Regions from separate parts of the Homo sapiens genome. Here all the other regions are linked to region 4. Evidence: fine-mapped expression QTL. A gene starts in region 4. Each other region holds a variant in brackets. All regions are shown on one strand. Distances are between the middles of the regions. Region 1 overlaps PRKCQ (protein kinase C theta). Region 2 has its middle 6.8 kb from the start of LINC02648. Region 3 overlaps LINC02648 (long intergenic non-protein coding RNA 2648). Region 4 holds the start of PRKCQ (protein kinase C theta).

The links. PIP is the estimated chance that this variant, and not a neighbour inherited with it, causes the effect. A credible set is the group of variants that fine-mapping cannot tell apart.
Region 1: its variant is the best candidate, but not a certain one, in a credible set for the expression of PRKCQ in whole blood (INTERVAL, PIP 0.71).
Region 2: its variant is the best candidate, but not a certain one, in a credible set for the expression of PRKCQ in whole blood (TOPMed, PIP 0.55).
Region 3: its variant is the best candidate, but not a certain one, in a credible set for the expression of PRKCQ in iPS cells (iPSCORE, PIP 0.69).

The regions. Positions count from the first base shown.
Region 1 is chr10:6,550,874-6,558,981 of GRCh38, forward strand. The region is part of intron 1 of PRKCQ (protein kinase C theta); the gene reads right to left. Among named protein-coding and RNA genes, the nearest start is that of PRKCQ, 25 kb to the right of the region's middle. The variant T/TA (reference allele first, on the strand shown) is at 3,101.
Region 2 is chr10:6,607,871-6,615,978 of GRCh38, forward strand. No RefSeq gene overlaps it. Among named protein-coding and RNA genes, the nearest start is that of LINC02648, 6.8 kb to the right of the region's middle. The variant G/A (reference allele first, on the strand shown) is at 3,281.
Region 3 is chr10:6,626,122-6,634,229 of GRCh38, forward strand. LINC02648 (long intergenic non-protein coding RNA 2648) reads left to right here. Exons shown (of 6, transcript NR_120634.1): 5 at 809-2,256. Among named protein-coding and RNA genes, the nearest start is that of LINC02648, 11 kb to the left of the region's middle. RefSeq lists an enhancer at 3,628-4,199. The variant T/C (reference allele first, on the strand shown) is at 4,905.
Region 4 is chr10:6,575,776-6,583,869 of GRCh38, forward strand. PRKCQ (protein kinase C theta) reads right to left here and starts at 4,501. Exons shown (of 18, transcript NM_006257.5): 1 at 4,436-4,501. It overlaps PRKCQ-AS1 (PRKCQ antisense RNA 1), which reads left to right and starts at 4,650. Exons shown (of 2, transcript NR_036503.1): 1 at 4,650-5,152; 2 at 7,901-8,094. RefSeq lists silencers at 4,503-4,752, 4,763-4,912 and an enhancer at 7,712-8,006.

The DNA.
Region 1 (8,108 bases), 25 kb before region 4:
TATTTTTTGTTTTTTGATCTAGCCATCCTAATGGGTTCAAGGCAATATCTCCTTTGATTTGCACTTCTCTAATGGGATTATAATTTGTATTTGCTAATGGTAAGTAATGTTGAGCATCTTCTCTTTTTTTTAAATGTTTATTTTAGGTTCAGGGGTACGCCTGCAGGTTTGTTATACAGGTAAACTTGTGCCACGGGGGTTTGTTGTACAGATTATTTCATCACCCAGGTACTAAGCCTGGTACCTAATAGTTATTTTTTTCTGATCTTCTCTCTACTGTCACCCTCCACCCTCTGACAGGCCCCAGTGTGTGTTGTTCCCCTCTTTGAGTCCATGTGTTCTCATAATTTAGCTCCCACTTATAAGTGAGAACATGCCACATTTGGTTTTCTGTTTCTGTGTTAGTTTGCTAAGGATAATGGCCTCCAGCTCCATCCACGTTTCTGCAAAAGTCCTGGTCTCATGCATTTTTGTGTCTGCATAGTATTCCATGGTGCATATGTACCACATTTTCTTTTTTTTTTCTTTTTTTTTTTTTGAGATGGAGTCTCACTCTGTCACCCAGGCTGGAGTGCCTGGAGTGCACCATCTCAGCTCACTGCAAGCTCCGCCTCCTGGGTTCATGCCATTCTCCTGCCTCAGCCTCCTGAGTAGCTGGGACTACAGGTGCCTGCCACCACACCCGGCTAATATTTTGTATTTTTAGTAGAGACGGGGTTTCACCATGTTAACCAGGATGGTCTCGATCTCCTGACCTTGTGATCCGCCTGCCTCGGCCTCCCAAAGTGCTGGGATTACAGGTGTGAGCCACCACGCCCAGCCCACATTTTCTTTATCTATCTACCACTGATGGACATTTAGGTTGATTCCATGTCTTTGCTATTGCAAATAGTGCTGCAGTGAACACACACGTGCGTGTGTCTTTATGATAGAACGATTTCTATTCCTTCGGTTATGTACCCAGTAATGGGATTCCTGGGTCGAATGGTAGCTCTGTTTTTAGCTCTTTGAGGAATCACCATACTGCTTTCCACAATGGTTGAACTGGTTTACACTCCTACCAACAGTGTATAAGCATTCCATTTTCTCCACAACCTTGCCAGCATCTGTTATTCTTTGGCTTTTCAGTAATAGCCATTCGGACTGGTGTGAGACTGTATCTCATTGTGGTTTTGATTTGCATTTCTCTAATGATCACTGATAGTGAACTTTTTTTCATATGCTTGTTGGCTATCTGTATATCTTCTTTGAGGAAATGTCTACTCAAGTCTTTTGTTCATTTTCTAATTTTTTTTGTGGTTGTTGAGCTTATATAGCTATTTATAGTTTTTCAAGTGTATTATAAAGTGTTTCAGATATACACAAATATAAAAATAACTTTTTATACATGTTTTATATACCTGTATATTCCTAAAAACATGTATTCTGCATACAGCATGTTTTACTAGTTATAAAACACAATATAAATCACTGTTTATATTCTCCTGCAACTCCAGTGATCGTGCCTCCAAGATTCAGGCTCAGTGCGTGCAGTCTCCATTCATTCATTCTCACTGTCTGCAACAGCAGGGCTCAAACCTGTTAGTCTTTTTTTTTTTTTTTTGTCTTTCTAGACAGAGTCTTGCTCTGTTGCCCAGGCTGGAGTGCAGTGGTGTAATCACAGCTCACTGCGGCCTCCACCTCTTGGGTTCAAGTGATCCTCCCCTTCAGTGTCCCAACTAGTTACACTGCAGGCATGCACCACCACACCCAGCTAGTTTCTTTTTTATTTTTTGTAGACACAGGGTCTCACTAGGTTGCTCAGGCCAGTCTCAAACTCCTGACCTCAAGTGATCCTCCTGCCTTGGCCTCCCAAAGTGCTGGGATCACAGGTGTGAGTCGCTGCACCCAACCAAACTTTTTACTCTAAGAATTATTTTATTCTCTTAAAAATTGTGAGAAAAACAAAGAGCTTTGGTTTATAGGGATTATATCTGTCAATATTTACCACATCAGAAAATAAGAAGGAGAAAAATTAAAATTTTTTTTTAATTAAAAATAATGAAAACCTATCATGTAATACGTGAAGACAACATATTTTATGATAAATAATTATGTTTTTCAAAGCAAAAAACATTGAAAAAAAGTGGCACTGTTTGACACTTTTGTGATCTCTTTAATGTCTGGTTTAATAGAAGACAGTTTCTGCGTTTAGCCTGTGGCTATCAGAACATGCAGTCTCTGGAAAACTTCAAGGTACAGAATGAGAGTGAAAAGGAAAAATAGACCTCAGTAATACTGTGAAATCAGTTTTGACTTTGCAAACTCCCTGAAAAGGTTTTAATGATCTCCTGGACCACACTTTGAGAACCACTGCTGCAGATTCCATCGGAATAGACATACGAGGCAGGCAGATCGCTTGAGCTCAGGACTTTGAGACCAGCCTGGGCAACATAGCAAAATCCTGCCTCTACTAAAAATACAAAAATTAGCTGGGCATGGTAGTGTGTTCCTGTGGCCCCAGGTACTCAGGAGGCTGAGGTGGGAGGATCACCTGAGCCCTGGAGGTGGAGGTTGCAGAGAGCCGAGATAGTGCCACTGCACTCCAGCCTGGGTGACAGAGCAAGACCCTGTCTCAAAAAAAAAAAAAAAAAAAAAAAAAAAACAAACAAACAAAAGAAGAAGAAGAAGAAAGAAATATGCTATCCATCTTTTCTTCTATTGATGTTTCATCTTTTCCTTTTTTTCCTTCTTCTTCCTTCCTCCTCCTTCTCCTCCACTTTCTTATAACTCATGCTGCTGTGAACATCCTTGTAGATACCTCCTTGGGAACATATTTGAGAGTTTCGATAGAATACATGCAAAGCAATAGACCTACAAAGTTGCGGTATGCACATATCTTCAACTTTGGCAGTTACTTCCAAATTTCTTACCAAACTTTAAAATCTATAAATGTGTCACTAAATTATTTCTGAGCACCTAAAACTTTAGTCAAGGTTATCCCTGGGAGGCAGGACCTGAAATGTGACTATAATTTTATACATTAAAATATAATTGATAGTACAGAATTATATTTGGTATGGAGAAAGGTCTCTAGAACAAAAAAGTGCAGTGGAAACAG[T/TA]AAAAAAAAACAGAGTGTCGCAGACATCAAGTCTCGGAGCACTCATTCAAGTAGTAGTTCAAGTAGGGAAGAAAGACTAATTCACCTGTTTGCTGAATTCAGCTGTGTGACCTTAGGCAAGTTACTTTACCTCTCTGGGTCTAATGTTCTCATCTGTAAAGTGCTGCTATTTCGTGATTCTAGGAATTGAAACCCACGACCGTCAGGAAGATTATAGTCTCCTTGGGATACAGGACTCATATACAAAGCAACCAAGGCCAGTTGGTACCAAAGTCCATGCAACGTTGCAGAAGGAACTGCAACTCCGAAGAGAGAGAACTCTCCAGCAGTAGTTTCAGGAGAAAAATGGGGGTCCAAACTGGGAATTAAAGTGTGGTTGGAACTGAATTAGGGGAGATATGTTTGGGGAAGTGAGACAATATGAGAACAGTTTTCCTTTCTATTACTTTGATTTGGCAATATTTAGAGGGTGTTAGCTTAGTTTCAGGGCCTGGGGAAATGCTGTGGCCTCTGGCATTTTCTGTCTACAGCTGGAAATGTAAAAGGCATCTGTAAGCCACATCCACTACATCCACTGTAGAAAGAGGCACGGCTCACTCATCGCCACCTCAGGAACTCTGTCAACTCTTGTGGGGGCTTTACAGAAAATGAAAATGGAAATTGTGTTAGGAAAATGATCCCAATATCAGACATTTCTTTCAATAAGTCTTTTATTAGAATTTACTTTCATTGGGAAGATAATTCATTTCCATTAAAAATTACTAAGTCTACAAAGAATCTAAAACAGAACTACCATTTGAACCTGCAATTCCATCACTGGGTATATATCCAAAAGAAAATAAATCACCCTACCAAAAAGACACACGCATATCTATGTTCGTGGCAACACCATTAACAACAGCAAAGACATGGAGTCAACCTAGATGCTCATAAGGAAAATGTAGTACATAGACACCATGGAACACTATACAGCCACAAAAAAGAATGGAATCATGTCCTTTGCAGCAACATGATTGCAGCTAGAGGCTATGATCCTAAGTGGTGAATGCAGGAACAGATAATCAAATAATGCATATTCTCACTTAGAAGTGGGAGCTAAATATTGGGTACTCATGGACATAAAGATGGCAACGATAGATACTGGGGACAAGTAAAGGTGGGAGGGGGGGGGTCTAGGGTTGAAAAACTAACTATTGGGTACTATGCTCAGTTCCTGGGTGATGGGATCAATCGCACCCTAAACCTCAGTATCATGTAATATACTCCCTGTATCTAAAATAAAAGTTAAAAAAAAAAAAGATCTAATGCTATAGTGACACATGTAAACCTCCTCGAGAAGGATCTGTTCATGTCACCCATAATAGACATTAACACAGACTGGTTATTTGTATACATAACAGGAAAAACCACTTATCTTCCTAAATGATGCGTACACAAACTACTGTGGGAACTTCTATTTCAGACAACAGACATTCAGTGAATAATGCAATCCTCTGGAAGAGAACACTAAACAGAAACAGATTCACAATTCTGTGCTATCATTTGGATGGGGGAAAAAAGACATTCATTGTTGTGTATGCGTATGATAAAGAAAATATTTAATTCAAAGTAGGATTTAGAGAGGTTCAAAGCTTCAGCTGATTTGAATCACTTTAAGGGTAAAGCATTATATCAATTTCATAGCATTGTATTAATAATAAGGTTTTATAAATGGATACCACATGGTGGATTTAAAAAAAAACAGGGTATGGGCCAGGTGGGCACGGTAGCTCACATCTGTAATCCCAGAACTTTGGGAGGCAAAGGTGGGCAGATCACTTGAGATCAGGAGTTCAAGTCTAGCCTAACTAACATGGCAAAACCACGTCTCTACTAAAAAAACAAAAATTAGCTGGGGTGGTGGTGGATGCCTGTAATCTCAACTACTGGGGAAGCTGATGCAGGAGAATCGCTTGAAACCGGGAGGCAGAGGTTGCAGTGAGCTGAGATCGTGCCACTGCACTGAAGCCTGGGTAACAGAGCGAGACTCTGCCTCAAAAAACCAACAAACAACAACAACAACAAAACCAGGATATGGTTTAGGAATGACCTCTTCATTTACAGAGTGTTATACAGCAGAAGAATAACTTATTCCTTTTTCTTATCCCATGATTAATGCTTTAAAAGCAACAAATAGGTTAGCATGAGGGCTCATGCCTGTAATCCCAGCACTTTGGGAGGCTGAGATAGGAGGATCACTTGAGGCCAGGGGTTAGAGACCAGCCTGGGCAACATAGCAAAACTCACATCTCTACAAAAAATTTAAGAAACCAGCTGGGTGCAGTGGCATACGCTTGTAGTCCTAGCTACTCAAGAGGGTAAGGTGGGAGGAATGTTTGAGCCCAGGAGTTAGAGGCTACAGTGAGCTGTAATTGCACCACTGCACTCCAGCCTGAGCAACAAAGCAAGACCCTGTCTTGGGAAAAAAAAAAAAAAAAAAAAAGCAACACTTAATATGAGCTACCTGGAAGAGGCAAATTCATAGAGACAAAGAGTAGAAGGGGGTGGCCTGGGACTGAAAGGAGAGGGAAATGGAGAGTTACTGCTTACTGGGTACAGAGCTTCTGCTTGGGTCATGAAAACGTTCTGGAAACAGTCATGAATCTAATTAATGCCACTGCACTTTACACTTAAAGTGGTTAAAATTGTAAATTTTATGTTTATTTTCACTACAATAAAAAACAATGAATTATGTAAGCATTTGATTTATTGCTGAATTTGCCAACAATCTTGGCTTTATTTTTGATCTTATTCCTGGCCTGTTTATTTTCCAATTTCCTAAACGGGCTGTCCCACACTTGTTCCCCTTATGTCTCCAAAACCATGACTCTGCCTTCTCCACCTCGGCAGATGAGCTTGTTAATTTTAAGGAAAAACTGGAAGCCGCAAGACATAAATGGCTCAACTTCCTTCGCTCTGGTTCAACTTATCCCAGTCTCCATCTAGTTCTTCCCTGAATGCCTCATGCATACATGATCCTAACCCTGTACACACTCTTGGAATTGTTCTTTTCTTTAACCCCTTGCCATTCTTGTGATTTCTGCCTGTCTCCCACTCCCGCTTATAAACACCCTCCGGTTTTGCAACCTCTAACAACTTCTGCCGTGGCTTCTCCCGCTGCTATGGCCTTACCTCCCTTCCTTCACCAACCAGCTTCCTGAACCATCTTTGCTTCCTCCCCTTCCATTCGCTTCTCTGCCCTCTGCCATATGGATTCCTCCAGCCAGCACTCTGTGGATCTATCTTGCTCCCTGCAAGAGCGCTGATGACTTGGTCATTTCCAGACCCTGCGGCTGGAAATGGTCTTCCTCCTCAACCAGAGACCTTCTTCCTTTTGTTCCAGAGACCTTTCTCTATACCAAATGTAACTCTGTACTATCAATTGTATTTTAATTCAATTTCTTGGTCTTCCTCCTTGACACTGCACAGGACACTGTCGACTCCCTTCTTCTCTCCTGCTCTCCTTCCCTCTCAGCTCACTCTTCAGCTTATTCTGTTGGTTTCACTTCTTTACCTAACTATTTTGGAATACATTTTGACTTTCCTCCCCCTTTTTTTTAAACCAACATTTCTGGTCAATCTCATCTATTTTGATGGCTCCTATGACCCTCTACCTAGTAGTAGCCTCAAAAAGAATATCTTTCTTGAACTATACATTCACTTTCTTCGGTCCCCTGTATTCAACTCCATATTGGACCTTTCCAGGTGATGTTCCACCAGCCCCTCAAACACAACTGAAACAAACATGAATTCTACTTTTTCCAGTGTCTGTACCTCTCCTCTCTGTCCTGTCTTGATCAATGGAATTACCACTTACTGAGTCTTCCAAGCTAGAAATATTGGAACCAGCTGAGTTCTCCTTCATCTTCATCTCCTCCAACCATCTACGCAACAAGTCCCATGGATTTTTCTGGTTATTTTTGTTGCATTTCATCACTGCTCTTCAGTCTTTTAGCTCTGGAACTTCAGACATTTTCTCTTAATAATTTCATGATTCCAATAGATGTTTAATTACTTATCCCCTTGCTCTTTCACGCTGCCTTTTCCACCCCTACACGGGCCATGTGAGCTGTCTTTTAAAAAAATCTCTTCCTTGCTTTGAAACATGAAGCAGATTCTCTTTGTCTGAACTATAAAGTCCAGACTCATGACCCACACAACCTCTTTATTACAGATCAACTTCAAAATTTTAAGGGGATTCCATTATGGCTAAAGATATATATTAAACAAGGCATTTTAAAAAGATGTTTTGGTTTCTTAAAATGGATCCTTCTGAATAGCCTTGAAATTGTTCAAAAGAACTCTAAAGAAAACAATCTTCCCTTACACACTACTAAAGATGTAAACAGACATACAGTACTATTTTGTTTTTTTTAAAAAAGGCTTAGTAAACACAAAGAGGAGTTACATACTGAAACCCACAGCTGATTTAATTTGCAAAACCACAGCGTTAGCTTGACTAAAGTAAAGATGACACAGATAAAATGCAACCAGAAAACTGAGATAAAAGATACAGGATAAATAACTTAAGCTGATGGTTTAGCAAGCAAACATCATGGGTGTAACATGAAGATCTGAGAAGTGACTTCGGTCCAGGAAACTCACTCCACAGAGTCCCTAGGAGCAGCAGGTTTTTAGGAGAATCACAGCATGCTGGAATATCGTCATCTATTCTTGCACTTGTGAGGAGGTGGTCACCGTGATGCAGGAAGAGAAATAAGATTTTAAAGTTGAAGTTGAGGGGTCTAATTTCTTATTTTACTATTTTTATCTCTATGTTAGGAAGATTTGGGGAAAATTCTCAGAGACAGTCTTTATCCTTAGGGTGTAAGAGAAGGGGGCGACGAGAAACTTCATTCAGAGCTGAACTAGGGCTATTGATTCTCCGGTGAGACATTTAGAGAGTCCCAAGTGCATGGTCACGCGCAGAGAGGCAGGTCCCGTCAGCGGTGACATGTGCTGCCGTTAA
Region 2 (8,108 bases), 32 kb after region 4:
GCCATTTTCGGTGTTGGGAGCAGTAGGGGTAGGGAGAGGGGTGGAAAATCTTGGCCTTGGCCCAGCTATGTCTAGATAAACTGGAAATTTGCCCTGACAGCTCTTTTCCTCTATTGTGCAAGGCAGGGCCAAGTGATGTCATTGGGACATGCAGATGTCTCTGTCCTCTTCTTTGACTAGTGCCAAGAAAAATGATCTTTGCAATGAACTGATGCTCCTTCCCCCAACTCAGATTCAGCTGTCTTATCATTTCTAAACCTGTGGCCACAGGCTAGATCCCTGGAAACTCAAGAAATGCTTTCCTTGAGGGAAATCATGCCCTGCTGCTTTCTGCTTTAAAACAGAGTGCTGGCTTATCTCCAGGATAGTGGAAAAGCTGTTGGCATCTCAGTTATGTTACAAGGGGCACACACAAAAAGCAAATTAATTGCTTCCTTCCTACCTTCTTTTATTCATTTATGTATTCATTCATTTAAGGAAAGAATATTGATTGAACATCTACTCAAGAACTGCAAAACAGAGATTACCTGACCTAAAGGTAAGTATTGGCAACAGAGGAGACAAACTTGGGAGCAGGCAGCTATAGCACAACACGGTGCAGCCATACCTAGGAGAGGGAGACGGGAGTCCCAGGAAGGATCACCTAACACAGCCTGGAGAAGAGCTGAGAGGGGAAAGCCTTAGAAAAAGGGCCACATGAGATAAGTCTTTAACAGTAAGTGGGAGTTAACCAGATGGAAAATGGGCAGCAGCAATTTTGGACAGAGCAGCAGGTGGAAAGTCAAGGGGCCATGAGAAAGCAGGATGCTTGTGGGAACTGCTGGAGACGGATGGTGGTGAGTGGATGGGATTCTAATCAGGACCATGTTTGTCCTCAATTTCTCCAGGGTGGCATGCACACAACAGCAAAAATGCCTATGTATTCCACGCTGGGCACTGTACTAGGAGTTTCACACATATGATCACATTTCATCTTCATTTTACAACCAAGGAAGTGGTCTAGGCTAGACTTGACCCTGAGTTGCCATCTCCTTGTATTTGCCCTTGACACTGTTACTACATGGAATTATAAGATCCACTCTGCTTACCACACATCTGTTGTGATGGTCAAATGATGCAAAGTATGTGAAAGCACTCACAGAACTACAAAATGCTTCATGTATAAAGTCTTGTTTCAACAATACAGGTCTTTTAGTGGAAAACTAGAATTAATAATGCTGTACTGATAATTTCCACTGTATTTCTAGTTGGTGTGAGGTCAGGGATCTGAGGTAGCAGAGAAAGGAGGGAGGCAATTTACACTCGGGGAATATATTTTTAAATGTCCCCTTGCACAAAAGTCATTTAGTTATGTGCAAGATCATCTTTAGCAGATTTATTAATTTGTGATCTTTATTTTGGGAAATTCAAATTATAGTGAATTCCCACCCATGCTTATTATGTAGCAGAAATCGTGCATGTCATCAAGGGCAGGGGAGGGAATCTCAGGGACTGGGAAGGGTGATTGGACATAGTACCTTCTAAACTCATATTAATAAAATAAAGTTATCAAATGAAGCCCAGGGTTGGGAAGGACTTATATGTGGAAATTCTTTTAGCATAATATGGCTCAGAACTTAGACTATGAGTAAGACTAGCTACACCATTTGCAGAGTCTAGTCCAAAATAAACATGCAGGATCTCTTAATCAGAAATCGATGAATTTCATGATGGCAACAGCAGAACCTCATGTCAAGTGTGTTGCCCTTCTGGGCACAGGGCTCTTTGTGACTACATGGGTTGCATGCCCATGATGCTGGCCCCTACTATAAGTTAGGAATCTTCCATGTTATCTGGTGAAAGGTATTGGCTGAGACTTATCCTTGCAGTGAAAAATGACTTGTTTGAGGACACTTGGGAACAGCTAGTGAAAAACATGAACACAGAAAAGAGGAAATTCTAAGTCAATTTGAAAGACACTGTTTCCTTATTCCTCTCTTCCACTTTCAAGTCCCAAACATCCCCTTTCTTCTACTGAATACACATGTTACCTGCCTGTTGTTGATCTATTCAAATGACACATGACTTTTATTGGAATTTCTTCCTGTTGGTAAAACTAGACCACTGCTACTGCAACAGAAGCTCATCCTTTTTGCTGAGTTTTCAGGGGAAATCAAACAGCTGTGTATCCTGTGCTTGGCCTTCAAAGTATTCATAATCTGAACTACTTTTACCTATTTTCCAGTTCTTCCAAATACCCATTTTCTGTTTTTATTTTCCAGATGACTATGATCCTGTTTCTTGAAATGTTTCTTTTTTTAACTAAAAAAGTTTTTAAATGCATCTCAGGTCTGGGTGCACCATGGTTACAATTAGGCCAAGAAAAATATTCTCTCCACTAGGTTTTTTAAATGTTCACCTCCACTTCTTGACTTAACACTTGCCCAAAACAAAACGGATCTCTTTTGCAGATGAATATGGTACCCCTGACAACACAGTGGGTTGGTTCAGTAGCATCCATTCAACATATATTTATTCAGCATTACGAAATATCAGGTGCTATGATGGATGTTATATATAAAGTGATAAACAAGGTAAATATTGGGCTCATATTCTATTGATGGAGACAGACATAAAAAATTGTCACATGAATAAACATACAATGAATATATAAATACAATGATGGAAAAGAAAAATTGTTATACGCAAGAGTCAGTTGCTTCTTTAATTGCATGGTTAAGGATGCCCGCTCTGTGGAAGAGATAGTTTAACTGAGACTTGAAGATGAGAAGGAGCCAGTCAGGCAAAGAACTGGTATGGATATGGGGTAGAGAGTGGTCCAGGTGAAATGTGATAATCCTAAGGCCAGAAATCATTTTGGGGATTTGGGGATCTGAAAGAATGTTAAAATGGTCAACATACTGTGAGTTAGGGATTGAGGCTAGAGAGGCAGGTAGGGTCCAGAGCATTCAGGCAGAAACAACAGGAAGTGTGGGTGCTGAGTAATCAAAAGGATGGACTGAGCTGGTTACTAAGTTACTGCTTCTCAGCTTCAAAGCTGTCCTTCCACACCCATTTCTTCTGGATGCTGAGATGGAGACTCTATATCACAAAATTTCTGCATTATCAGCTGCCAACCTGCTAAGCTCTGCTGAAGGAAGACACTAAGGGACACTGAAAGGCTAGAGGCATCATAGGAAGAGACCTGCTCTTTCCTTTTTGCTTCCAGTTCCTGTTGGCAAGGTTCTAGCAAAGATGATACTAATACACCTTGGCAGTGACAGTAGATTTCAGTTTGCAC[G/A]TTTCCTAATATTGCTAGGTTCAGCTTCACTCCCATTCCAAACCCATCCTGAGACAGGAGCAACGGCTGGCTGGAGAGTCCTCCTTAGAGGTCTAAGTCCTGCTTTATGGAATATTTCCTCCAGGTGTCTCATAATCCCAAGCTCTTAATAACTCCAACCTTATCTCTGTGTTCCCCCAGACCTAAGGCAGATAGTTTTTCACCGCATTTAATAGTTTTGTGATATCTTAATGTTTTCTTTTTGTCTTTTTGCATTCTCTAACATCTGGTTGAAATTATTTATATTAAATTCATTTTGTTAAAATAACTAGTGAGATTTCTGTCTTTTGACTAGATCCCAATTGATACAGATGATGTTAGGAAATGGAGACAAGTGATTTTCAAGTTTCTAGCTAAGTTGGGTGGATGAAATGCCATTTTCATGGGAAGACTTGAATAAGAATATTTTGCTATCTTAGATAAGCAAAAGTTTAGTTTTGGACATGTAAGGTATGAAATGCCTTAAATGAGACATTTAAATGGAGATGCAGCAGAAGCAGTCAGATAGACAAATTTAGAGCTCAGGGATATGGCTGCAACAAGTAGGTGAAACTACACAGGAGATGGAAAGATTGGAAAAAACCCAGAAAAGTTTTGTGGTCTGGAAGCCACGAGAAGAATGTTTCAAGAAGAGGATGTGTGGTGCTGCATAAAAATAGACATATAAATCAATAGAAGAGAATTGAGAACACAGAAATAACCCCTCACATTTATGGTCAATTGATTTTTAGCAAGGTTGCCGAAACAATCAACAGAATAGAATTTTTTTTAACAAATGGTGCATGAACAACTGGATATCTACATGCAAAAGAAAACAGCTGGACCCTTCCTCACATAATATGCAATTATTAACTCAAAATGGACCAAACACCTAAATGTGAGAGTTAAAACTGTAAAAATCTTAGAAGAAAACATAGGGGTAAATCTTTGAGACTCTGGATTAGGCAATGTTTTATTAAATACAATGCCAAATGCACAAACAACAAAAGGAAAAAAAATGGAACTTCAAAAATGAAAACATGTGCTTCAAAAGATATCATCAAGAAAGTGGAAAAACAACCAAGAGACTTGAAGAATATATTTGCAAATCATATATCTGATAAAGGACTTGTGTCTAGAATATATAAATAACACAACTCACTAATTAAAAAAAAAACACCAAGTCAACCATTTAAAAAAATGGGCAAAAGATCTAAATACACATTTTCCAACGTAGATATAAAAATAACCTGTACATACATGAAAGGATGTTCAACCTCATTAGTCATCAGAAAAATGCCAGTGAAAACCACAACCACTTCACACCCACTAGGATGGCTGTAATTTTTTTTAAAAAAAACAGATATAATAAGTGTTGATGAGAATGCAGAGAAATTAGAACTTTTATTCATTGCTGATGGGAATGTAAGAATGGTTTAGTCACTTTGAAAAACAGTCTGGCAGTTCCTCAAAAGGTTAAACACAGAGTTAACATATGACCCAGCACTTCTACTCATAGGCATATACCCAAAAGAAATGAAACATATGTCCACACAACGACTTGTACATGAATGACCACAGCAGCATTGTTCATAATAGCTAAAAGCTGGAAATAACCCAAATGCCCGCCATGTGATTAATAGATAAGCAAAATGTGGTAGATCTATACAGTGAAATATTATTTGGCAATAAAAAGGAATGGAATACTGATATATACTACAACATGGCTGAACTTTGCAAACATACTCTGTGAAAGAAGCCAGTCATAAAAGATCACATGATATATAATTCAATTTATATGAAATATCCAGAATAGATAAATCTCTAGAGACAGAAAGTGGATTACTGGTTTCTTAGGGCTGGAAGGAGGGCTGGGGGGATTAGAGAGTGATGGGTAGTGGGTACAGGTTTCTTTCTGGGGTGATGAAATATTCCAAAACAGATTGTGTTAAAAACCACCACATTGTATACTTTAAATGAATTATTTGCATGGTATGTAAATTATATCTCAATAAAGTTGTTACAATGAATACATATTCTTGTAGCAAAAAATAAAAGATGAGATAGTGAAATGCACAAAATGCTACTAAAAGGTGGTGTAAAATCAGGATACAAATATCCAACATATTTGGTAACACGCAAGAGAGCGGTCACTTTGATAAGAGCTGGTAGAGCAGGCTTACCTGAAAAGCCTCTAAGAATTTCCAGGCCATGAAGAGTGTTTATTGGAGATTTATCAACATGAGTTCAAAATGAGACCAATCTGTGAACTAGAGCAGACCCCAAATATTGGTCTGGGTGAAAAAATCGACAAAAATAAGGACTTGGGCTTGCCTAATGTTGCTTTCACTAGGTTTTACCATGTACTTAGCAAGAAAGTAAAGGAGACATTTAAAATATGAACATTTTGTAATGGGGTAAGGGATCATTGTTCTCTGATCCCTTACCTGTTCCTGCTATAGATGAATCCAGGATTCGGTGGTGCCTGTTCCAGGAACCTTTAGTGTGAAGGATCCTCCAGGTGAGAGAAGCCTTTATGTCTTCTGAAATGGTTCTGCTGTGTCCCCACCCAAATCTTGTATTGAAGCTCCCATAATTCCCGCGTGCTGTGGGAGGGACCCAGTGGGAGATAATTGAATCATGGAGGCAGTTTCCCCCATACTGTTCTTGTGGTAGTGAATAAATCTCACCAGATCTGATGATTTTATAAGAGGTTTCCCCTTTCACTTGGCTCTCTCATTCTCTCTTGCCTGCCGCCATATAAGATGTGCCTTTTGCCTTCCACCATGATTGTGAGGCCTCCCCAGCCACACAGAACTGTGAGTCCATTAAACCTCTTTTTCTTTATACATCAGCCAGTCTTGGGTATGTCTTTATCAGCAGCATGAAAACAGACTAATCCACCTTCTTTGGGCTTGATGGGTGGGGATAGGGAGAGGTGGAGATAACCTGCCTCACTGAGACCTATCATCTGGGTTCTAAGTGCATAATTCCTTGCTGGCCCCAGATACTGAACCAAGTTCTCCTGTGTTTAATTTCTTGCCTTTCCTTCGTGTCTACTCGAAGTTTCATGGCATCAGACGAATCTCTGCCCCAGCGGGGTCATATGAATTTCTTCTGAAACACTCAAATGCATAGGGCAATGAGAGAGTGGAGCATCAGCAGGCTGACATCTGTTCTTTAAGAACTCTTTAGCAGAAATAGTCAGACATAAATGTGCATGCTCATTTAAGCTACGCTCTAGGACACAGTTTCTCTAATGGCATCTTGTGAGATGTCACTGGTGATTCTGCAAGGGAGTGTGAATGAAAAAGTAAACCCTAATTAAAAAAATTTTTTTTGCAGTAGGTTACTGGGGGTACAGGTGATGTTTGGTTACAGTTCTTTAGTGGTGATTTGTGAGATTTTGATGCACCCATCACCCGAGCAGTATACACTGCACCCTATTTGCAGTCTTTTATCCCTTGACCCCTCCCACCCTTTCCCCCAAGTCTCCAAAGTCCATTGTATCATCCTTATGCCTTTGTGTCCTCACAGCTTAGCTACCACATATCAGTGAGAACATACAATGTTTGCTTTTCCATTCCTGAGTTACTTCACTTAGAATAATAGTCTCCAATCTCATCTGGGTCACTGCAAATGCCGTTCATTCATTCCTTTTTATGGCTGAGAAGTATTCCATTGTATATTTCTACCACAGTTTCTTTATCCACTTGTTGATTAATAGGCATTTGGGTTGGTTCCACAATTTTGTGATTGTGAATTGTGCTGCTATAAATCTGCAAGTATCTTTCTCGTATAATGACTTTTCGTATGAATCTGCAAGTATCTTTTTCTTATAATGACTTCTTTTCCTCTGGGTAGATGCCCAGTAATGCGATTGCTGGATCAAATGGTAGTTCCATTTTAGTTCTTTAAGGAATCTCCACAGTGTTTTCTATAGTGGCCATACTAGTTTACATTCCCACCAGCAATTAGAAGTGTTCCCTGATCACTGCATCCACGCCAACATCTACTGTTTTTTGATTTTTTGATTATGGCCATTCTTGCAGGAGTAAGTTGGTATCACATTACGGATAAACCCCAGTTTTTGAACTTCACATACTGCACAATGCTGGTGATGTAGCAGCCCTGTTGGGATTTTGTTAGGGATCCTTAATCCTTGTTGTGTTGCTGTGAACAGGACTGTGTTTATTTGCAGGAGTCCATTCTCAATTTTCTGTGCAAATTGGGGAAGGCTGTTGATAATCGGTGGATGCTATAGTGCCCATGGAAAGACTCTAGTCTGAAGATACCAGTCTCTCCCTCCCAAGATCACCTCCCCTGACCAACCTTCTGCACTCCTGACAGATACAAGGGAGCAAGCAAGTTGCACCCAACCTAATAGTAAATTGCAGGGACATTTCCATTCTAAGGAAGGAATTTTTGTGTGTGTTGCAACTCAGCTTCTGCTCTGGCATTTTGCTGTGGTAAGCATTGCAAGGCAAGGTTTATATAGGTTAGAAGAGAATTTTATTGTGACATTTTCTTTTTTTTTTTTTTTTGCAATTTCTGTTCAAGTATTTATTATGCCCTCTGTGTTATCATTTATTAGCATTTATATTGCCAATCATGTTGGAGAGTCCATGTGGTGATTTCTGAAAACGAGATGTGAGAAAGAAGAGGATAATTTAAGTCTAGACCTACAGATTGTGCTGATAAAGTGATGAAGAACTACAATCTTCTTAGTCATTTCATTGTATAAGTGCAATAAAGGGTATGTAATAAATTTGTATGTTCATATTTACAACGGAAACTGCTTATCAATGAA
Region 3 (8,108 bases), 50 kb after region 4:
GGGATCCAGGCCGGCTTCTGAATGCGAAGGGCTGCTGCTTTCTCTTTCCTCATCCATTCTACGTCGCTAAAGCGCTCACTGAGTGCTGGGGTCGCACAGTAGAAATGGTTTCTGTCTTTAAGGGATCTACAATGAGTGTTAAAAGCAGATGGAAAATAGACAATGGGCAATTAATTAGTCAACAAATATGAACCAAGTGCCCCATGGGGCAGGTTCTGTTGTGGACACGGGAAATATGAAGGAAAGCACAGACAGAGACCCTCTGCCCTCACGGAGTCCTCATTCTAGCAGAAAGAGACAAGCAATAAACAAAGCAAAGAAGTATGTTATCCATTGCGTTTGAGGGTAATTATGGGGAAAAGAAAAAGCAGAGTTAGAGGAATGACACCCGTAAGAGGGAATGGCAAGGGTTGCAACATTAAACTGGGTGGCAGAGGGGGTATGCTATGATGAGTGTATACGGAACCATTATATGGAGGAAATACACAACCGCTCAGGCATAATTTTTTATCCATTTTTTTGATAACTTATAAACCAGGGAAAAATAAGATATGCACTGTTTTATTTACTATATACAAGAAATCAGGTTTAGGTATGTTGAATCAATGCAACTTTACAGAAATATTACGTACATTCTTTATGGAAACAAAATAATTTGAAGTATGTTTTCCCACTTATCAACATCCTGTAAAATTTGGAAACGGTGATCACTGCTTTTTATACTGCAGAAAAGGAGGAAGATATGTAATTGGTCTGTATTTGTTTATTTACTGTAACTTTAATTGATTGTTATATTTTTCTGCCACAGATGCTGGACCGTGACACGAATGTGGCCATTTCCACTGTCACCAAGCTCCCCTAGGTCTCCATCAGCTTCAGTGACCTGGGCTCTTTCACTTCTCAGAGATGCTCATCTGTGCATCTCCTGTCAGTTCTCGCTCTTTTTTTTGAGATGGAATCTCACTCTGTCGCCCAGGCTGGAATGAAGTGGCACGATCTTGGCTCACTGCAATCTTCACCTCCCAGGTTCAAGTGATTCTCCTGCCTCAGCCTTTCAAGTAGCTGGGATTACAGGCGTGCACCACCATGCCTGGCTACTTTTTGTAATTTTAGTAGAGATAAGGTTTCACCACGTTGGCCAGGCTGGTCTCGAACTCCTGATCTTAAGTGATCTGCCCGCCTTGGCTTCCCAAAGTGCTGGGATTACAGGCATAAGCCACTGTACCCGCCTCCTGTCAGTTCTCTTAAAATAGCCGAGTGATCTTTCCTTCCCATTCATCTGCTATCTGTCTGCTGGCTCTTTCTTGCCAATAAAGACTCATTTTCTCCTATCTAGACTTCTCTGGCATGAGGAATGAGCCAATTTAATGCATGTCTTAGGTGGGAGTGTGGTGAGTTGCGGAAAGGAGGTTTGGGGAGCTGGATTCTCTGTGAAAACGTGTAGCAAGGAGAAAGGTCACTGGGGAGATTATCATCTGCAAGGCATGAGAGGCTGTTCTATTGTCATTCACATGTCATCAGCCCAGTTATTAATACTTTCCTTCCTCTACCCCCTTGTCGTTGTTAAGGAGTTCCTTGGAAAAAACAAGTACTTTCCCTCCCCTGGTTGGTGTCTCTGTGTCTTCAAGATACTGCCTATTTTTTTGAGGTTTCAACACAAACAGATCTAGTCATGGCAAAATGGTGACATTAATTCTGACTTCCCAGCTTCAACACTCTTCCCCTAAGAGGCAGAGAATCCTAGCACAGTAAGGGGTCTTAATGTTCTGGTCAACCCTTCTTGCCCACACTAGTCATGGAAGTCTTTGTTGAAATGCCCCCAGTGAAAGGAGGTTCATTTCCACCCAAGGTAGCTCATTCAATTTTGCCACAACTGTGTGTGTGTGTGCGTGTGTGTAAATGTGTGGGTGCATGTGTGTATGTGTGTGTTGGTCCATGTGTGTGTGGCTTCCTCCACCCATTAATTGTAATTCTAGCAGTTGGGGCCATGAAGAAAAATGCAACAACTCTTCTGGGCAGGAGGCTTTTAGATGACTGAGTACTCTTTTGACATGTTTCTTTATTTCTTTACCATCGATCTCTTTCCTCCAGGATTAGCATAATCAGTTCTTGTTTTTTTTTTTTTGTTTTTTTTTTTTTATTTCTCTGAGAGGGACTCTTGGTCTATCAGCCAGGCTGGAGTGCCGTGGTGTGATCTGGGCTCACTGCAACCTCTGCCTCCCAGGATCAAGCGATTCTCCTGCCTCAGCCTCCCAAGTAAGTGGGATTACAGGCATGTGCCACCACGCCTGGTTAATTTTTGTATTTTTATTAGAGATGGGGTTTCACCATGTTGGCCAGGCTAATCTCAGACTCCTGATTTCAAGTGATCTGCCCACCTCAGCCTCCCAAAGTGCTGGGATTACAGGCGTGAGCCACCACACCTGGCCATTGCTTTTGTCTTCTTGCAGCTATCAGTGTGTACTCCAATGCTTCATAAATTTGAGTAAAATGCAGATTCCTTAAAATAAATCACAATATTATGCTCTCTCTCTCTCTTCCCCTCTCTTTCTATATATATATATATATATATATATATATATATATATATATATATATATATCTGATTACTGACTGAATTAGTTTTTATTATTTAAACCTAAGATTTAAAACCCTTCTGTTCATAGTCCTTAAACATGAAACTTAAAAATTAAGATTAAGTGTAGAATTAGCAATTTAACAGGACAGATTAAAATGTGTTTTACTGAAGCCAAATTATTTTCAATGTGAAGATACTACTACTATCATATAGCATGCATTTACATTGTTTATTGATTCCTTGTTATAACCCAATTCTCCTACCATTTGTTCTGTATATAAAATGAGGATACAAAATGTATTGTCTCCTCAAAGGGTTAGTGTGAGACTTGCACGAAATCATGCATATCAAGCACAATGCTTATTGCAGGATAATGGTCAAAAATGGCAGATATTATTACTATAATTGTTATTGCTGGTGCTACGTTATCATTGGTGCTTTGTCTGCTTGCAGATTCGAATGGAATACAATAAAACCTTGCTGACAAACATCTTTCAAGTTTAGGTCTAGTTTCCAGTCCCCATCATGACTTTTAAAATTTGCTCTGAAAATTCCTGGTCATGACTCTTTCTAAATTAAACAGACTTTCAAGTTGCATATTAAAACGTGGGTCACCTCAGGGCAAGCTAGAAAGCCAGGGAGGAGTTATAATGATGTATAAAGGACATTCCATGTTGCATCTTCCTCTACTTCTCTGAAAGAGCTCAAAATTAATGTTCAGAATCAAGAAAATACTACGGACCTGTCTTCAATATCGTGGCTGCCCCAAGATAGATAAAGTTTTGATTTTCTTTGTCTTTGAATGTAATACATGGTAGTTCCTTGAAGGTTAATGAACTGCTCACAGAGTTTTGGTATAATAAATCTTTACACAAACTTTCATGCGCGTCCGTGTGAAGAGACCACCAAACAGGCTTTGTGTGAGCAACATGGCTGTTTATTTCACCTGGGTGCAGGCAGGCTGAGTCCGAAAAGAGAGTCAGTGAAGGGAGATAGGGGTGGGGCCGTTTTATAGGATTTGGGTAGGTAAAGGAAAATTACAGTCAAAGGGGGTTTGTTCTCTGGCGGGCAGGAGTGGGGGTCGCAAGGTGTTCAGTGGGGGTGCTTTTTGAGCCAGGATGAGCCAGGAAAAGGACTTTCACAAGGTAATGTCATCACTTAAGGCAAGGACTGGCCATTTGCACTTCTTTTGCGGTGGAATGTCATCAGTTAAGGTGGGGCAGGGCATATTCACTTCTTTTGTGATTCTTCAGTTACTTCAGGCCATCTGGGCATATACGTGCAAGTCACAGGGGATGTGATGGCTTGGCTTGGGCTCAGAGGCCTGACATTCCTGCCTTCTGATATTAATAAGAAAAATAAAACAAAATAATGTTGAAGTGTTGGGGCAGCGAAAATTTTTGGGGGGTGGTATGGAGAGAGAATGGGCGATGTTTCTGAGGGCTGTTTCAAGCGGGATTAGGGGTGGCTTGGGAACCTAGAGTGGGAGAGATTAAGCTGAAGGGAGGTCTTGTGGTAAGGGGTGATATTGTGGGGATGTTAGAAGAAACATTTGTCATATAGAATGATTGGTGATGGCCTAGATACGGTTTTGGATGAATTGAGAAACTAAATGGAATAACAGAAGGAGAAAAACAGGTATAAAATGTCTAAGAATTGGGATGACTCAGGATATCTGATTAGAGAGTGCCTAAGGAGATTCAGCATAGTCCTGCCAGCAAAGATTATTTATTTACTTCAAGAGTTAAGAGTGGCAGTTTGGGGATAGCACCAGGAGATATCAGCTGTGATGGCTTGGAAAAACAGTGTAAACCAGCAGTGTAAACAAGAGCAGGGCATGTATGAGTAGTTGAGAACGGTGAATAGGAGTATGACTAGACAGAAGATAGTAGGGATGACAAGTTTTTTGGGGCACAGTCCAAGTTGGTCTGGTGTCTGGAATGAGACTGGGGCCTAATAAAAAGGAGCGTCTATACAAGAGCTTAAATGGGCTGTACCCTGTAGCATTCTAAGGACAGGCCTGAATTCTGAGAAGGGAAAGTGGTAAAAGTATTGTCCAGTCCTTTTTAAGTTGGTGGCTGAGCTTGGTGAGGTGTGTTTTTAATAGACCATTAGTCCTTTCTACTTTTCTTGAAGATGGAGGACCGTAAGGGATATAAAGGTTTCACTGAATACTAAGAGCCTGAAAAACTGCTTGGCTCATTTGACTAATGAAGGCTCATCTGTTATCAGACTGTATTGAGGTGGGAAGGCTAAACTGAGGAATTATGTCTGACAGAATGGAAGAAATGACTGCGGTGGCCTTCTCAGACCCTGTAGGAAAGGC[T/C]TGTACCTATCCAGTGAAAGTGTCTACCTAGACCAAGAGATATGTTAGTTTTCTGACTCAGGGCATGTGGAGTAAAGCTAATTTGCCAGTCCTGGGTGGGGCAATTCCTCGAGCTTGATGTGTGGGGAAGGGAGGAGGCCTGAATAATCCCTGAGGAGTAGTAGAATAGCAGATGGAACACTGAGAAGTTATTTCCTTGAGGATAGATTTCCACGATGGAAAAGAAATGAGAGGTTCTAAGAGGTGGGCTAGTGGCTTGTACTATAGCAAAACCTGCCTTTGCTGGTGTGTGGCGATTAGGCCTGGTGGAACCGCCATCAATAAATCAAGCATGATCAGGGTGAGGAATAGGAAAGAAGGAAATTTGGGGAAACGGGGTGAATGTCAGGTGGATCAGAGAGATAGTCATGGGGGTCAGGTGTGGTATCAGGAATAATGTGGGAGGCCGGATTGAAGTCTGGGCCAGGAACAATGGTAATTGTGGGAGGCTCAACAAAGTGTGAGTATAGCTGAAGGAGCCAGGAAGCAGAAAGTATATCCATCAGGTATGAGGAAGAAAATAGATTTTGGAAGTTAGGAGAACTGTAGAGAATGAGTTGAGCACAGTTTGTGATTTTGAGGGCCTCTAAAAGTACTAAAGCAGTGGCAGCCGCTGCATGCAGACATGAGGGCTAGGCTAAAACAGTAAGGTCAAGTTGTTTGGACAGAAAGCCTACAGGGTGTTGTCCTGGCTCTTGTGTAAGAATTCTGACCGCGCTAACCATGCCTAGGAAGGAAAGGAGTTGTCGTTTTGTAGAAGGTGCTTGGGTTTGAGAGATCAGTCGGACACGATTGGCAGGGAGAGCACGTGTGTTTTTATGAGAATTATGCAGAGATAGGTAACAGATGAGGAAGAAATTTGGGCTTGATTGAAGTAATGGGGGCTGTCTGTGAACCTTTGCAGCAGTACAGCCTAGGTAATTTGCTGAGCTTGATGGGTGTCAGGGTCAGTCCAAATGAAAGTGAAGAGAGGCTGGGATGAAGGGTGCAAAGGAATAGTAAAGAAAGCATGTTTGAGATCTAGAACAGAATAATGGGTTGTAGAGGCAGGTATTGAGGATAGGAGAGTATATGGGTTTGGCGCCATGGGGTGGATAGGCAAAACAATTTGGTTGATAAGGCGCAGATCCTGAACTAAATTGTAAGGCTTGTCTGGTTTTAGGACAGGTAAAATGGGGGAATTGTAAGGAGAGTTTATAGGTTTTAAAAGGCCATGCTTTAGCAGGCGAGTGATAACAGGCTTTAATCTTTTTAAAGCGTGCTGTGGGATGGGATATTGGCGTTGAGTGGGGTAAGGGTGATTAGGTTTTAATGAGATGGTAAGGGGTGCATGACCGGTCGCCAAGGAGGGAGTAGAGATATCTTATACTTGTGGGTTAAGGTGGGGGGATACAAGAGGAGGACACAAAGGAGGCTTTGGATTGGGAAGAAGGGCGGCAATGAGACATAGCTGTAGTCCAGGAATAGTCAGGGAAGCAGATAATTTAGTTAAAGTGTCTCAGCCTAATAAGGGAGCTGGGCAGGTGGGGATAACTAAAAAGGAGTGCTTAAAAGAGTATTGTCTAAGTTGGCACCAGAGTTGGGGAGTTTTAAGAGGTTTAGAAGCCTGGCCGTCAATATCCACAACAGTTATGGAGGCAAGGGAAACAGGCCCTTGAAAAGAAGGTAATGTGGCGTGGGTGGCCTCCGTATTGATTAAGAAGGGGACGGGCTTACCTTCCACTGTGAGAGTTACCGGAAGCTCGGCGTCCGTGATGGTCTAGGGGGCTTCCGAGGCGATCCGGCAGCGTCAGTCTTCAGCCGCTAAGCCGAGAAGATCTGCGAAGGAGTCAGAGAGCCTTGGGCCAGAGTTCCAGGGCCTCTGGGAGTGGCTGCCAGGTGAGTTGAACAGTCCAATTTTCAGTGGGGTCCCACACAGATGGGACACAGGTTAGGAGGAATCCCGGGCTGCGGGCATTCCTTGGCCCAGTGGCCAGATTTCCGGCACATGTAGCAAGCTCCTGTGGGAGGAGGTTCTGGAGGAACGCCTGGCCGCTGTGGTTCAGGCGTTTGGAAGTTCTTGGGTGCTGGAGATGTGGCTGGGGTTTGTCTCACAGTGGAGGCAAGGAATTGCAACTTTTTTCTATTATTGTACACCTTGAAGGCGAGGTTCATTAAATCCTGTTGTGGGGTTTGAGGGCTGGAATTTAATTTTTGGAGTTTTATTTAGTGTCGGGAGCAGATTGGGTAATAAAATGTATATTGAGAATAAGACGGCCTTTTGACCTTTTAGGGTCTAGGGCTGTAAAGTGTCTCAGGGTTGCTGCCAAAGGAGTCATGAACTGGGCTGGGTTTTTATATTTGATGAAAAAGATCCTAAACGCTTCTGATTTGGGATAAAGAAAAAGGAGCATTAACCTTGACTATGCCTTTAGCTCCAGCCACCGTTTTAAGAGTAAATTGCTGGGCAGGAGGGGGAGGGCTAGTCACTGAACGAAACTGTAAGCCGGACCAGGTGTGAGGAGGGGAGGTGATGAAAGGATTACAGGGTGGAGGAGCAGAGGCTGAGGAAGAATTGGGACCTAGCTCGGCCTGGCAAGGAGCAGCCTGGGGAGGAAGGGAGAGGTCAGATGGGTCTGTAGAAAAGGAAGATTAGAAAGACTCAGTGACGCTTGGGGTTGGTACTGAGGGGACAGGCGGGAGGGAAAGAAGGAAGATTTGGGACGAGTTGCAATGGGCACAGACTAGGAAGGGACTGATGTGTAAAAGAATACCTGGACATCAGGCACCTCAGACCATTTGCCTATTTTACAACAAGAATTATTTAGATCTTGCAGGATGGAAAAATTCAAAGTGCCATTTTCTGGCTATTTGGAACTACTGTCGAGTTTGTATTGGGGTCAAGAGACATTGCAGAAGAAAATAAGGCATTTAGGTTTTAGGTCAGGTGTGAGTTGAGGTTTTAAGTTTTTGAGAACACAGGCCAAGGGAGTAGAAGGAGGAATGGAGGGTGGAAGTTTCCCATAGTGAAGGAAGCAAGCCTAGAGAAAAGAGAGAGTAGAGAAATGGAAGGAAGGGGTTCAGGGGTTCTTACCTTCCAGAAAAGTGGGAAAAGGGGTTGGGGCTCAGAGATAAGAGGTCAGGGCACGGAAATAAGGGATGGGGCGCAGAAATAAGAGGTCGGGG
Region 4 (8,094 bases):
TCACGCCTGTAATCTCAGCACTTTGGGAGGCCAAGGTGGGTGGATCATGAGGTCAAGAGATCGAGACCATCTTGGCCAACATGGTGAAACCCCATCTCTACTAAAAATACAAAAGTTAGCTGGGTGTGGCAGCGCGTGCCTATAGTCCCAGCTACTCAGGAGGCTGAGGCAGGAGAATTGCTTGAACCTGGGAGGTAGAGGTTGCAGTGAGCTGAGATCATGCCACTGCACTCCAGCCTGGCGACACAGCGAGACTCCATCTCAAAAAACACAAAACAAAAGACAGCGTTGCTGAGAATGTGGAATAATTGGGACCCTTTCTACCACTGGTGGGAATGTAAAACGGTCCAGCCACTGTGGAAAACAATATGGCAGTTCCTCAAAAAATTAAACATAGAATTACCCTACGACCCCACAATTCTACTGCTGGGTACATACCCCAAAGAATTGAAAGCAGGACCTCAAACAGATATCTGCGTGTTCCTCTTCACGGCAGCATTATTCACAATAATCAAAAGATAGAAGCAACCATCAACAGATACAAGGATAAGCAAAATGTGGTATATCCATAAATGGAATAGTATTCAGACTTAAAAAGGAAGGAAGTCCTGTCCAATGCTGTCACATGGATACAGCTTGAGAACACTATGCTAAGTGAAATAAGACAGTTACAAAAGGATGGATACTGTATTCTGCTTCTGTGAGGTCCCTAGAGCAGTCAGAATCTTAGAGACAGGAAGTAGAAGGGTGGCTGCCAGGGGCTGAGAGGAAAGACGGATGAGGAACGAATGTTCCACGAGGACAGAGTTTCAGTTTTAGGAGATGAGAAGAATCCTGTGGATGGATGATGGCAATGGTTGCAAAACAATGTGAATATACTTAATGTCACTGAACTGTACGCTAGAAAATAGTTAAGAAGTTAAATTTTAAGTTATGTGTATTTTAACCACAATAAAAAAGTTAACTGGTAGGTCACCTGGGACTGCGGTTTAAAGCAAATGCTTGATGGTTAGACTAATCTGGATGGTCCAACTAACCTGACTCTACCACTGACTGGTTATAAGACCTGGACAAGGGGCTCTACCCCTTGAGCCTCAGTTTCCTCATCTGAAAAACTGGAATAATAATAATATCTAATTTATAAAGGCTTTTGGAGGTTAAATGAAGCAGTAATGCCTCTTACATATAAATAAAATTCTGAGTATGATATACAGCACATAAATTCTAAATAATAAAGACTCAAAACCATATTTCATTGGTTTTGTTGATGCTGATTATTATTATTATAATTAATACTATTAGCTTAATTCAAAAGCTAACATCAACCTACAGCAACCTGCAGAAAGATGTCCTGCCAAATACTTGCTAATTTAATCCAGGAGCAAAAATCTATGATTCTGGGCTTGAGTGAGCTTTCCTAATTTTAAAACTCTGATGCTCATTTTGTCCCCAAGAATGTGTTTAGATGACAGAGCAATCAGAATTTGACATGTATAAATGCTTGGCATGTTAAAATAATGAAAGATATTTTCACCATTGTAAGGAAACAGCTTTTAATCCATCTCTCTGGTTCAACATCACATTTTTCTATAGTTTCTCATGACTTCTTCCTTAACAATTGGAATAGGTATGAAAAAGCTGAGCTGAACACATAGCTGCTTAGAAATGAGCTGCTTAAAGTGTTAAAACAACAGAAACAGCAAGCATGAGTTTAATGCTATGTATGCCGTCACAATACTAATTTCTCTATTTTAAATTACAGATTACACACACACATACACACACACACGGAATCACGTCTATATTGCTGGGATTTTCATTATATAACAATATATCATTTTAAATGATTTGAGGCAAATTATTGAAAAAAATTAAAGACTGAACTCCATAAAAAGGAAATCACCTGAAATCAAATATAACCTTGTTAACAAACCAGCACATTAGCAACATTTTTAGGGGCAACAACATAATCAGCAACTCTAAGACATCAATCAAATGCATTAAAAACAGGAAGTACTAACTCTAATTCCTAATTTCCAGAAAGGCAAATATACCATAATTAAATAACACGTTATAAGGAGATTTGTCTGTGTAGGTCTACTTCTGAATCCCCGAAGTTACATACTTGTACCACAAGCCCATACTCTTGAAAGAAAATTCTGGACCCAGTCCACATGGAATTTTGGTTAAAACATCTAATTCATTGCAGAGAAGAATTTAGTCTTTTCCACGGAAGAGACAGCATGTGTTAGAATGAGAATACTTTATAGAAATGACCAGTGACAAGCCGGCTATGTAAGGGGGCTTCTGATGCCTGGCGTTAACAAGAGACAGAGAGTATTATTGTTGAAAGGGATCTTTGAGATTACAGAAGGAGCTGAGGTGTGAATAATCGAACACCATCCCCTTGTTGCCTGAAGGAGAAGTGAGACAGCAAAACAAATCAAATTTCCAGGAGCTGCACCGTGTATGGTGAGCGAAGACGCAATGAGGACATGTCTGTAGGAGAACAGAGGTAGAAGTTAGCTCCTCAAGTAACAGTTGCCATCCCGAGGCACCACAGCACAAGACAGTAGCGGAAATGAACATGACAACGCGGATGGTGGGTGACAAGAGTCTTGCCTGGATATTGACATTTTTAAAGTGTAGAAGAAAATCGCAGGTCACTGAAACAAAGGCTGATGGTGCCCAGCAGGTTACTCTTGAAATCAGAAACAGAAGTTCATGAGAGGCAAGAAGACAGAAACAACAACTGAAAAACTTAGAGTGGATCGCTAACTTGCAGGAGCTGTGCAGCTTTGGCTTTGCAGGTTTTAGAAGCTCTCCCTACGCCACGTCTTTAAATATATGTATGTTCAATCAGCAGGAGGAAGGGACTAACAAGAGCCTTCTGCGGTAAGCACCTGCATCAAACAATGGCACTGATCTCAGAGGGATTTTAAACAGCTGTGCATAAACTTCAAAAGTAATTTGCAACCATATTAGTAAATGTCACTCTTCTTCCCGCTAGACACAGCACTTTTAAAAGAGATTAAGCATCCGCAGTAAGCCTGCCATTTTACAAGGGTTACCAAAGATAAGTTAGGGAAAATATGAAGATGATGATTCACAAGGTCGGGGTGTGGGGTGGGGTGGGGGACCCAGGACCTTAGGAATAGGGCTTGTCTATCACACAGCCTCGGGCAAGAAGGGCCCAGTGGGGACCATGGCTTCTAGGGAGCAAACCAAGGGAAAAGAGCAACGGAGTGGACCCTCCAGGCTTCTTGCCTCTCTCACGGAGCCTCACGAATCCCAGTGGTTTAGAATTTTCTTTGGCAAAAGAAAAGGTCAAAGAGGCCGGAGTTGACAGAAAGCATGGGCGGACTTCTCAGATCTTGTAGGTGGTTCTTAAAAGAATTCAGCAGGCTTGAGGTGTGCTCTCAAAGGGCAACTGGAACGTCAAGGACTTGGACACCAGGCACAGATGGTTCATTTCCCATGGACAGGAAGAGGGCACGGAGTGCTCCCTCTTCCCTCCACCTTCTCCAGCCTAGTCCCCCTCAGCCTGTGCCACTCCTGAATCATCTTTTATAGCACCACGTCCAGCCCGCACAGGGGCAGGACAGCCCAGGGAACAAGGCAGTCCTGTGGCGCTCTCCTTGCAGAAATGACCGGAGTCTCCCAATCCAGCCAGCCCGTGGACCTCTCTTCATGCCCACGGGGGAGTGCACACGCCTGTAGCATTCAACAGTCACTCTCCCATTGATAACGGTGGCTCTCGAAAATCCAATACCACAAAGATACTTTATTGCACAAACTTTGCTTGGTTAACCTGGCCCTCAAAGCTGGGGAATAACCTCACTTGAGGCTACAGGAATGAGCACGCAGATTTTTCTTTTTTTTTTTTTTTTGGTATCTTTCAAAGACCTGCCTCCCCCTCCCCCAGGCCCTTGACCAGAAACTTGGCTTGTTTAGAAGCCTGAGCAATGGCACCCCCGTCCGTGCTCCAATACATTCCCAGAAAAGGGGTTATGCTCCCCTGTGGACAGGATACCATCTCCAGAAAACATGTTTCCTCACGCATTTTTTTTTTTTTTTTTTACCAAGAATACAAAAACTTTCCACCTTCTTCCCTCCCCGCAGGCCCCCTTTCGTTCAGGTGAGAAGGAAAAGGGAGAAGAAAGGAGGAAGCGCCCCCAGGCCGGCGGCCCCCACCCGGCTAAGGTCGCCAGCATCCCGCATCCCGTGCGACCTGCGTCCCAGAAACCCAGCGGGGAAATTCTTCCCGGTGCGCTCTTGCGCCCGCTTGGTTCCATTTCCTACTCCGCCTGCTCACCCGGCAGCCCTCACCCCTTCCCGGAGGCTCTCCGAGGGGCCCGGGTAGCCCTTCTCGCCACGGGTCTCGGCCCCTCCAGCCCGCTCCCTCCCGGCGGCGGCGCGGGGCGCGGGGCCCTACCTGGAGCGAGCACGGCGCCGCTGCTGCCCGGTGGCGCTGGGACTGCGCGGGGACTGCGCGGGGACTGCGCGGGGACTGGCGGGGCTGGCGGGGCTGGCGGGGCTGGCGGGGCTGGCGGGCCCGGCGCACTGCGGGTGCGCCTAGAAGGCGGTGCCCGCCAGGGGGCGCTCGCCAGCCTCCCCGCCAGCCCGGCCTCCCGGGACCCGGCACCTCTAGCCAGGGACGCGCGCTCGGTCCCCCGCCGTGCGCCCCCGGTCCCGCGCCCAGGCTCCCGCCCCTGGCCTCCTTACCAGCCACTTGTCGCCCAGCTGCGAACTGGAGCGGGAGGCGGCGGCCGGAGGGCCCAGGACAGCCCCGGGAGGGCGGCGAGGCGGAGCAGGAGCGCCCCGGCTCCGGCCACATTCTCAGAGTCAGGAAAAGGGGCGAGAGGCCACATGTCTCCCTCTCGCCCAACTGAAAACGAAACGGCGCTCCAGCAGATTGGGTGGAAAGAGCTGGGTCTCTTTTCTCTGTTTTTCACGCTAGAAAGGGCTTGTAAACATTGTTCCTTTTAAAATGACCTACCCCAGGCATTTGTTTGGGCACACTTCTGTCCTGGGGTCATCGTTCCTAGGTGGCTTCGGACCTGGGACTTTTCCTGTATCTGCACATTGTCGTTTTATACACAATTGCCAAGGTGGGACTGCTTTCAACTTTACTGTGCTTGAAGCTGCAAAGGTAATGTTGCCGCCGTGCGTGTCATTTTAGGACTTTTTATGCCTTGCGGGTAATACTAATGATGGTCACAGGGAGGATAAACGGGGTGGTTTCTTTTTCTATACTCCATGTAACTAATTTCTCATTCAGGTTAGAAAATTATATGTCTGGTTACTAATATTCTTACTGAATGGTTTCCTTGCAATGATGACACCAAATAATTAAAACGTACTTGATTAAGACTTTTGTTGCTGTAGTGTACTAAGATCAGATTAATCTGAGAAGTAAAATAGTAATTTTTTGTCCTTTTTTCTTTTCTTGTTTTGAGAGAGACATTAAAAACGATTAAAACAAAACAAAACAGGCCAGGTGCGGTGGCTCATGCCTGTAATGCCAGCACTTTGGGAGGCTGAGGCGGGTGGATCGCTTGAGGCTGGGAGTTTGAGACCAGCCTGGCCAACATGGCAAAATCGTGTCTCTCCTAAAAATACAAAAATTAGCTGGGTGTTGTGGCACGTGCCAGTAATCCCAGCTACTCAGAAGGCTGAGGCAGGAGAATCGTTTGAACCTGGGAGGAGGAGGTTGCAGTGAGCTGAGATCTCACCACTGCACTGCAGTCTGGGTGACAGCAAAACTCTGCCTCAAAAAAAAAAAAGGTTTAACAAAAGCCAAAAGTTGAATTAGCAGCCTTCTGATCATGGGAATGTAGGATGTCAACTAAAAAGAACCTCAGAGGTTGGGAAGGCAGATGAAAAACTGAGGCCCCGAAGTGTTTCAAGACTTGATTAAATCACTCAGGTCTGCACTAGGAAGCGAGTTATGATGATGCCCCTAATCTATATGAACCCAAATAAAGCCAAAACACACACACCTTTTAAGGATAAAACTATATTCCATTAAAATTAGCCCCGCATTTGTCAATATCTAACAGCATTGGACTGACCCTCAGGCCAGAGGCTGTAGCTCTTGGAAGATCCTAGCCAGGAGGTTTGAGAGTGGCCAGTACCTCGGAAGTGCTGGCTCACTCTGACATCATCAGAACCTGGCATACAGTAGGCGCTCATTGGGTATTTGCTATGGAAATTAGGCAGGAAAGTGCGTCTGTGTCTGGAAACAAAGAGGCAAAGCTTAAGCAGTGATCCCCATGCAGATTCTTTCTGCAAACTACAAAACAGAAGCTTCCCTAGTTCAGACTGCCATCCATCTGGCTCTTTCTCCAATTGTTTTTCAGCGGATCCTGTTACAGTGCAAAGAAGAAATGGCAAACGGATAACAGCTACTGTGCCTAGAAGATGGTAGATTCCTCACGCTCCATATCTGGGTTTCTCATTGACAATTAGGCACTGAAAGGAAGCTCATATGTCCTGTTAATTTAATCAGTAGTTAGTGGCTTTAGAAAAAGTTTCATATATACACCAGGTATGATAAGGACTTTTTTTTTTCTTTTTGAGACAGAGTCTTGCTGTGTTGCCCAGGATGGAGTGCAGCGGCGTGATCATAGCTCACTGCAGTTTTGATCCCCCAGGACTCAAGTTATCCTCTCACCTCAGCCTCCCAAATAGCTGGGACTACAGGCACACATCACCATGACCAAGCTAATATTTAAAAAGATTTTTTTGTAGAGACGGGGTCTCACTATGTTGCCCAGGCTGGTTTAAAACTCCTGGGCTCAAGTGATGCTCCTACCTCAGCTTCCCAAAATGCTGGGATTATCGGGGTGAGCCACCATGCCCAGCCTGTGATGACTTTAGACGCACTACTCATATAATATTCATAATCTGATGTGATATGTATCATCATCATTATCATCTCTCTTTAACAGAAGAGACTAACAAGGCTTAGAAAGGTTATGTACCTCGCTCAAGATCCCACAATTACTAAAGTACCAGAACCAAGATTCAAACCCAGGTCAGGCTGGAGCCACCATCTCAAGAGCTGCTGAATAATTAATTCTCCTTTTTTTTTTTTTTTTTTGAGATGGAGTCTTGTTCTGTCACCCAGGCTGGAGTGCAGTGGCACAATCTTGGCTCACTGCAACCTCTGCCTTCTGGATTCAAGTGATTCTTCCTGCCTCAGCCTCCTGAGTAGCTGGGATTACAGGCATGTGCCTGCCACCATGCTCAGTTAATTTTTGTATTGTTAGTAGAGACGGGTTTCACCATGTTGGCCAGGGTGGTCTCGAACTCCTGACATCAGGTGATCCGCCCACCTCAGCCTCCGAAAGTGCTGGGATTACAGGCATAAGCCACTGCGCCCAGCCAATTCTCCATTCTTACATCGTACACTCAGTTTTCTCTTTCTTTCTCTTTTGGACAACTGATCTTTGAGGACTCTTGGCTACTCAATTGTCCTATAATCGTATAGTCCTACAACAGGAAACCCGTTAACCTGAAGATCAGATCTTTTAAAACAACATCCATCATATATCTACAAAATTGGGATTTTTTTATCGTAAAATTTCATCTAAAACAAAAAATTCACATCTGTTCTTGGTATCCATTAGGTGTAGTGGACACCTCTAGATATTCTTGATGCCAGCATCCTGTAGACCCGCCATCTCCTTTCCCAGGCCATGGGGTGTTTCTGTTTTCTATTAGACACTGTCTCTTAGTTATATAAACGTGGCTGCTCTCAGAAGTTCTCCACACCTTTGTTTCCTGGAAGAGGAAATGGCATTTCCTGGAGGGGATGACACGTGGGCGGTGAGGTTCCACTCACTACGTTAAACACACCCTAACTTTCAGCTGTGTACTTCTTTTCCTCTTTCAGGTTCTGCCCTGATGTTTCCTGGAATAATGCTGAGGACTGCCTTTCGGGTAGCCGCCCTATTCAGTTCACTTCATCTCGGAAATACCTGACCCCTGCCTTGGATCCAGCGGCCCTCCTGAGAGCTGAGGAAGGAGGAAATCCTATGTGTCTGCTCCCGGAGCTGCCACAACCCATCTTCCCACAACTCGGAACTT